2 linked regions of the Homo sapiens genome follow. The protein of the gene in region 2 interacts with the protein of the main gene of each other region in a pairwise test. Each region holds a gene or a part of one and is shown on either strand. Other genes may lie near its edges.

Region 1 (3,818 bases), on a different chromosome or scaffold from region 2:
CAATAAAATTTAATCCTGACAAGACACAGAACATTCTGAACAAGTTATACCTGGAAGCATTTATATACAGGTGTGAAGTATAACGGAGAGTATAATGCAAAATTGCCATTTCTTGCCATTTAGAAATCCAAAGGCCACAGCTTTACTTTGGAATAAAGAAGGAGGAAGATACCAAGGCCTACAATTTCCTGCTAGAGAACTGGTGAATCACTTATTGGTTAAAAGTTCTAAGACAGATAAATGCATACATGATGATGCAGCTGACAGACTTTTGTGCAGCCAGATGGCAACTGGCAAGGCCACTACCCTTGGCTCCAAGCTCCAGCCCCAACAGCATCAATGCAGGATAAGTTTCCTGCTCCAATCAGCTGGGAATGACTTCCAGATCTACTGGCTTTAACAAACTCCATATCCTTAAAACAATTCGAATGGATCATGATATGAAGATTTATTATCTTGGGAGGCTTCAGTTTTTAAAGTACGTTGACATGCACTATTGCACTTGATTCTTGTAACAAATTTGTAAGAAAACAAGGGTAGCTATTATTAGTCCCTCTTTATCATTATTATGAAAACATTTCTAAATAGAAAAATTGAGGACCATAAATGTATACGGAAAATTTGTTTTTAAAAGAAATACCCAAGTGAAAGCACAATGTTCTCAAGATCCAGGTCAAGTTTTCTTGTATAGAAGGAATAAGTTTAACATAAAAACCATAAGTTTCTATGAATATATCTTGTTAATAAATTTAATGATGTGACTAATTCCCAAGCTCTATGTTACTTAGAGAACTATACTTAGGATACTGTGTATTCATCCATACAATAAAGTTTTTTTACCCAACAATTTCAGATTTCTCACATCTTTATTGAGAAGTTCACAAGTAATGAAACTTCATTAGGATAAAAAATGAGAGGTACAGCAAAGTTTTCTCTCTAAAAATTACTGGTGTGCAATAAATTTTTCTCTACAATATGATCCCAAATCTTTAAAAGTAAAATATATCAACTAATATTAGGTTTGGTATCAGAAAATTTCATTGTAACTTTAGAAACCAATATACTTGACCTAATAGTGTGTTACAAAATAGATGTATCATGCTAAATCAAGCCATATTTTAAATAAGCAAAGATTCTCACCAATTTAAAGGCATTGACCAAGTATCATTTATAATACCTAAGAATCATTTTGAAATGTGAATAATTAATCCAATTTATCTGGTTTACAAGTCTATAATTTTCATGCCAAGCACACCTTGAGCACAGGATAAAAATGTAAATTCCTTGGCCGGGCATGGTGGCTCACACCTGTAATCCCAGCACTTTGGGAGGCCAAGGTGGGCGGGTCACCTGAGGTCAGGAGTTTGAGACCAGCCTGGTCAACATGGTGAAATTCCATCTCTACCAAAAATACAAAAATTAGCTGGGTATGGTGGTACACACCTGTAATCCCAGCTACTCGGGAGGCTGAGGCACAAGAATCACTTGAACCTGGGAGGCAAAGGTTTCAGTGAGTGGAGATTGCACCACTGTACTCCAGCCTGGGCAACAGAGCGACACTCTGTCTCAAAAAAAAAAAAAAATTAAATTCCTTGATATAAAATAAAATACTCCATTTAAATGGTCATACAGCCCACTCTCTATTGCTATTCAAAAATTATATAAAATTTAAAAATATATAATCTCTCTTACAAACTTGTTTTACTGTTTGGTAACCATAGTCAGAAAGCTCCCTTTTGAAAAACCTAACTTTTTATTTCTGACACTCAGGCCTCAGATTCACTTCTCTTTTGAGATGTTATGTGGTAAATGGAAAGCATTCTAAGCCCTCAGCTGATGGAAATGGTGTATGATTCAGTACAGAAAAGTTAAATATTACTTGGTCCAATCAAATATCTCCCTCTGTAATGAGGAGGAAAAACAAATACCCTGCCCTCACTCATACACTATTCTGTATTAAAAGTCTATACTATAGTTTCAGAAACTTCTGTTAATAAAAATTTTATATTTTATTATTTAAAATCAGATTCCTAGCAAAGGAAAATTTAGATTCCTTAGTATCTAAAAAGAAATTCCAAGATATTACCCAAGATAAAATATTTCAATTTTTTTTCAAAGAGGGTGGAAAAGAAATGTTTGTGCATATAAAGGGATAGCACTCTAAGGAAATGATTAATGACTATTTTAGAATAGCAATTTTAAGTTACTAATCACAAGTAGTGTAAATATTGCCAACAGAAATTATATAACTCAGCTAAATTTTAGAGAAACATTTAAAAATTAGTAGTATTTCAACACAATAAGACTTTCAATGTGATAGGTAAGAAAGTGAATATAAGTAATTAAGAAAATTTTTTTACATTATAAGATGTAGCACCTGTAAGTATACACGTTTTCAGAAAAAGTAACAATTCAGTACAACAATTTCTCACTTTTAACTAAACTGTTGTCTCTCAAATGGGCATTTCCAGTGATTTTTTCTCCTCCATTTCTTTTTATACTAGATGGCTCAGACCACTCTCAACTCATGTTTAGAGACTCTTTCCTGATCACTAGAAAGAATTATGTGTGTTTACCTGTATGTTTCAAACTGGAAGCTGAATTTTAAGACATTTATACATATTTTACTCAAAATACAGCCTCCTTGTCCTACTTTGCACTCTCCACCTTACAGCTTAAGTCCTTTGTAAAAAAAGCTGGAGTGAGAAGCAGGAGCAAACTTGAGAAAAAGAGAAAACACCACTGAATACCTAAATGAATTTTATATAATCCCAGACTCCTTTTTCAAATAGAAATTCAGTTTCCCAAATGGTATTTCCTGTGTCATAGAATGGCAGTGATAAGACTAGATAATGCAAAATATTCTTCAATTTCATTTCATTTTCATCTTGGCTTCCATCTCTCTGTACCCTTTCCTATTTCTCTGACTTGCAGCTACCTAACATTCAAATGCCTTTACCTATCCTAACCACAGGAAAGAGGAAATGAAAATAGTTCAACATTTAATCAGAGAACGTATGTACCCCCTTCTCTTTCCTACCATTCCATCTATCTTCATATGTTAGAAAAGATTTTTTAAAGTAATGGTATCTCTAGTATAATGCATTTGAACAATATTTTTGTGCTAGTCTTAAGACAAAATAATCATACTGCTTATTTTTTGAAAATATGTGGAGAAATAATTCTTGCTTTTTGGGTGAAAAGAACTTTGACATGTATGAACCCGATACATCACTGTAAAGTACAAAAAAAAACAACTAGAGTCTTATTAAATTCACAGTCTGAATCATAAAAGTAGATGCCTGCAAAACAATTTGGTTCAAAGGGAATTTCAAATCAAATATGACCATTCTCAAATAAATACTCAGACACTGACAGAATTTCTTGAATTTTAAAAGGAAATTTCAATGAAAGATAATTATAGCAAACTTTAGAGACTTGCTGAATCCATTTTATGGTTAGTATTAACTTCAACTAAATAGCAACAACAAAAAATAAGGCCACGGCTGCTCTGACTCACTGAGGTTTACAAATGCACAGTGATGTTTGGGGACATAAAATGCTCTAAAGCACGTGAAGAAGTCATCAGAGCCATTTTGTGTTTGAAATCTTGTGAGATTAATAAGTTGTACACACACAAAAAAATTGCAACCAACTTTTTAAAACTCTGGCAGGGTGCAGTGGCTCATGCCTGTAATCCCAGCACTTTGGGAGGGCAAGGTGGGTGGATCACCTGAGGTCAGGAGTTCAAGACCAGCCTGGCCAACCTAGTGAAACCCTGTCTCTACTAAAAACACAAAAATTAGCTTGGCATGGTG
Region 2 (3,552 bases):
CCAAATCCTCCCACGTGGTCAGCCCTGGGTCCCTCCCTTCCAGCACCTTCCTGCTCACAGTCCAGAGCTTAGCAACCACACGAGAGGCACTTTCCACACCAGGGATACGGCAGAATCCCAGGGAAGGGTCTCATTGGCCCGGCTGGCATCACAGGCCCCTCCCTGAACCAGTCACCAGCCAGGGCCCAGACACCCTGATTGGCCAGGCTGCTGAGGCGGGAGGGAGGTGGGCGCCAAGGTCGGGGTGTGGGGGTACTCACCCCTGTTCCCCTGCCCCGGCTCAGGGCTCTTCATGGTCATGTTCTCCATCATCTCCATGGACTTCTTCCAGCTGGAGGCCGCCCAAGCTGGCTACCTCATGTCCTTCTTCGGGCTCCTCCAGATGGTGAGTGGGCACACAGGGCCTGCTGGGGGGCACGGCAGGGGTCTCCAGTGGGGCAGGCCTCTGAGAGTAGAGGCTCCTCCCCGGCGGAGGCTGGGGAGCCCTTGGCCTCCCATCTGGCACATGTCAGGGTCCACAGGGAACCAGGCATACAGGCCAGGGAGGGAGAGCCAACTGCAGTGGTGGGCACGCTGTGAGGACAGTGGACTCCGGCCTCTGATGGGCAGCTGGCTGGGATCTGTGGCAGCCCACCTGCCCACCAGCTGTGTGACCAGAGCAAGTCTCCCAAACTCTCCAAATCTGTCCCATGAGGCCAAAGTGCCCGCCTTGCAGGGTCCTTGGCAGATGAGATGACCTAACGTGGCAAAGTGGTTAGACCAGCGTGGGCCCCTTTGGAGGTCCCATAGGAGCAAGACGCCAGCCCTCAGAGGCCACGCTGTCATGGTAGGATAAGACGCCAGCCCTCAGAGGCCACACTGTCATGGAAGGATGCCCTGAAACCCTGGCAGCTCCGATGCGGCAGGTGTCTGTCTGCCAGCCCCCCAGAACCGCTCAGCTCCCGGGCCGGGGCGAGACACCTCCACCACCAGCTCCTCTGGGCTTCTGGACCAGACCCTGGGTGGTGGGGACAGGTGATGATTTGCCACCACCCAGGATGGCTGCCTGACAGCCAGAGTGCGGGGCGGGGGGGCTATTCTGGGACCCGCCAGGGTGGGGGTGGGGGCTCTCGGCCTCTCCGGAAGCCTGTGGCATTCCTGGCACCTCCAAGCCATCTGCTCTTCAGCCTCTGGGCCCAGGACTAGACTAGTGCTAAAATAGCTGCTCCTGGGAGGGGCTGGACCCCCACCGTGGGCAGAGAGGGCCTCTGCTTTTTGGGGCAGGAGGGGCCACCCTGGCAGGGTAAAAAGAGATAAACAGAAAAACAACAGCAACAATAATAGTAACAATCCGGGGTTGTTGCCATGGGGCCTGTTCTGAACAGGCTGCGCCCAGCTCACTGCGAGGAAGGACGCTTAGCCAGGCCCTGGCTGAAGCCTGCAGCTGGGCTGGACACAGCAGTCATTGGCCTGTGTTGTGGGGGACTTGGGCCTGCCATGGCTGCAGTGGGGACCCTGCCTGAGACAGACAGAGCTGGGGTGGTGACCAACACCGTCGGGGCACCCTCGCAGGAACTGGGCCTGGTGAACTGCCCAGGGACGGGGAAGGAGCAGGGTGAGGCATGGGGACCCCGACACAGGTTGAGCAGCGGGAGAGGAGGCTGAGGAGGGGAAGGAGGGGGCCCGCAGAGTAGCCCCCAGACCCCAAGTCCGGTCAGGGACAAGCTTGTTAGCTCCAGGTTCATGTCACAACCTGCAGGGCTCCTAAGTTCAAGCTTTTTTAAACTTAATGGGCAAACTGAGACGCAACACAAATAGGCTTCTGACCTTGGTGTCTGAGTCCTGGATCTGAAGTCCTTCACGGCACTCACTGTGAGCCCCTCTTAGACGCACTGCACGAAGTGAGCTTGCCAGCTCTTCCTTTAAGAAACGTGTTAGGCCGGGCGCGGTGGCTCACGCCTGTAATCCCAGCACTTTGGGAGACCGAGGCGGGCGGATCCCAAGGTCAGGAGATTGAGACCATCCTGGCGAACATGGTGAAACCCCGTCTCTACCAAAAATACAAAAAAAAAAAAAAAAATTAGCCGGGCCTGGTGGCAGGCACCTGTAGTCCCAGCTACTCGGGAGGCTGACGCAGGAGAATGGCGTGAACCCGGGAGGCGGAGCTTGCAGTGAGCCGAGATCGCGCCACTGCAGTCCACGCTGGGCGACAGAGCGAGACGCCATCTCAAAAAAAAAAAAAAAAAAGGTGTTAAAATCCCAAAAAACCCTAAGATAAAGCAAGTGTGAAAGTAAGATTTTTAAACCATTTATGGTTCCGGTTGGAAGCAGTTTCTGTTCTGCCTGGCAGGAATTTGGGAGGGTGACTGGTCCCCTGCAGAGGTGCTGCAGGCTGGGCCTGCCCTGTGGGCAGATACTGAGCCCAGGGGCTCCTCCAGCCGGGGCCACCCCTGCACTCCCAGGCGCGTTGGCCCAGCACGCCCTGCTTAGTGGAGGAGCTGAGATGACCAGATAGAGAGCCTCGCCCTGGCCTGGGAGCAGCCTGCGGCCAAGCCTGTCCCACCGAGCCCATCCCCGGGAGCAGCCTGCGGCCGAGCCTGTCCCACCGAGCCCATCCCCGGGAGCAGCCTGCGGCCGAGCCTGTCCCACCGAGCCCATCCCCGGGAGCAGCCTGCGGCCGAGCCTGTCCCACCGAGCCCATCCCCGGGAGCAGCCTGCGGCCGAGCCTGTCCCACCGAGCCCATCCCCGGGAGCAGCCTGCGGCCGAGCCTGTCCCACCGAGCCCATCCCCGGGAGCAGCCTGCGGCCGAGCCTGTCCCACCGAGCCCATCCCCGGTGTCCCTGGTGTGGGCCTTTCCTTCCTCCCTTGTGGAGAGGAGCCCCGACTCCTCAGGGATCTCAGACCCATCCTGACGCAGTCACTGCTGGCGGAGTAGGGAGAGACCCCGGGGCTTGCAGATGCTGAGGGGCCTTCTCTGCAGAGGGGCCCTGGCCACCACAGGCCAGTCTGGAGGTCCCCAGCTTTGGGGGCTGGCCACAGTCCAGACGCCCCTCCCTCGCCTCCCCCATACCCACTTCTACCCTCTCTGTCTGGCTCTAGGTGACCCAGGGCCTGGTCATCGGGCAGCTGAGCAGCCACTTCTCGGAGGAGGTGCTGCTCCGGGCCAGCGTGCTGGTCTTCATCGTGGTGGGCCTGGCCATGGTGAGGGCTCCCCGCTTTGGGCCCACTCACCTGACCCTCTCACTGGGCAAGGCCACCTGGGCGGTACCATCTGTGCTTAAGCCCTTGGGGACTCCTCCAGCCCCCCACACCCACCCGGGGCCAGCTCTTCAGCAGGGACAGCAGTCAGGGTGGGGAGGGACAGGTAAGACCCCAGAGAGGAGCCTGGTCCCGTGAGGCCCCCACTCAGCTCGGCCCCCGCCTGCCGTCCCAGGCCTGGATGTCCAGCGTCTTCCACTTCTGCCTCCTGGTGCCCGGCCTGGTGTTCAGCCTCTGCACCCTCAACGTGGTCACCGACAGCATGCTGATCAAGGCTGTCTCCACCTCGGACACAGGTGAGTGTGGCCAGCGAG

What was found.
Region 1: the proteins of SLC67A1 (region 2) and TLCD4 interact in binary tests that used the Homo sapiens proteins (3 or more experiments, as listed by UniProt).

Annotation. Positions count from the first base shown.
Region 1 is NC_000001.11:95,144,842-95,148,659, reverse strand, and holds part of TLCD4 (TLC domain-containing protein 4), read right to left. Parts: intron 1-3,818.
Region 2 is NC_000011.10:2,919,023-2,922,574, forward strand, and holds part of SLC67A1 (solute carrier family 67 member A1), read left to right. Parts: intron 1-284; coding exon 285-385; intron 386-694; coding exon of another isoform or gene 695-736; exon of another isoform or gene 737-2,768; intron 2,769-3,079; coding exon 3,080-3,181; intron 3,182-3,413; coding exon 3,414-3,534; intron 3,535-3,552. UniProt on the Homo sapiens protein: May act as a transporter of organic cations based on a proton efflux antiport mechanism. May play a role in the transport of chloroquine and quinidine-related compounds in kidney. Plays a role in the regulation of lipid metabolism.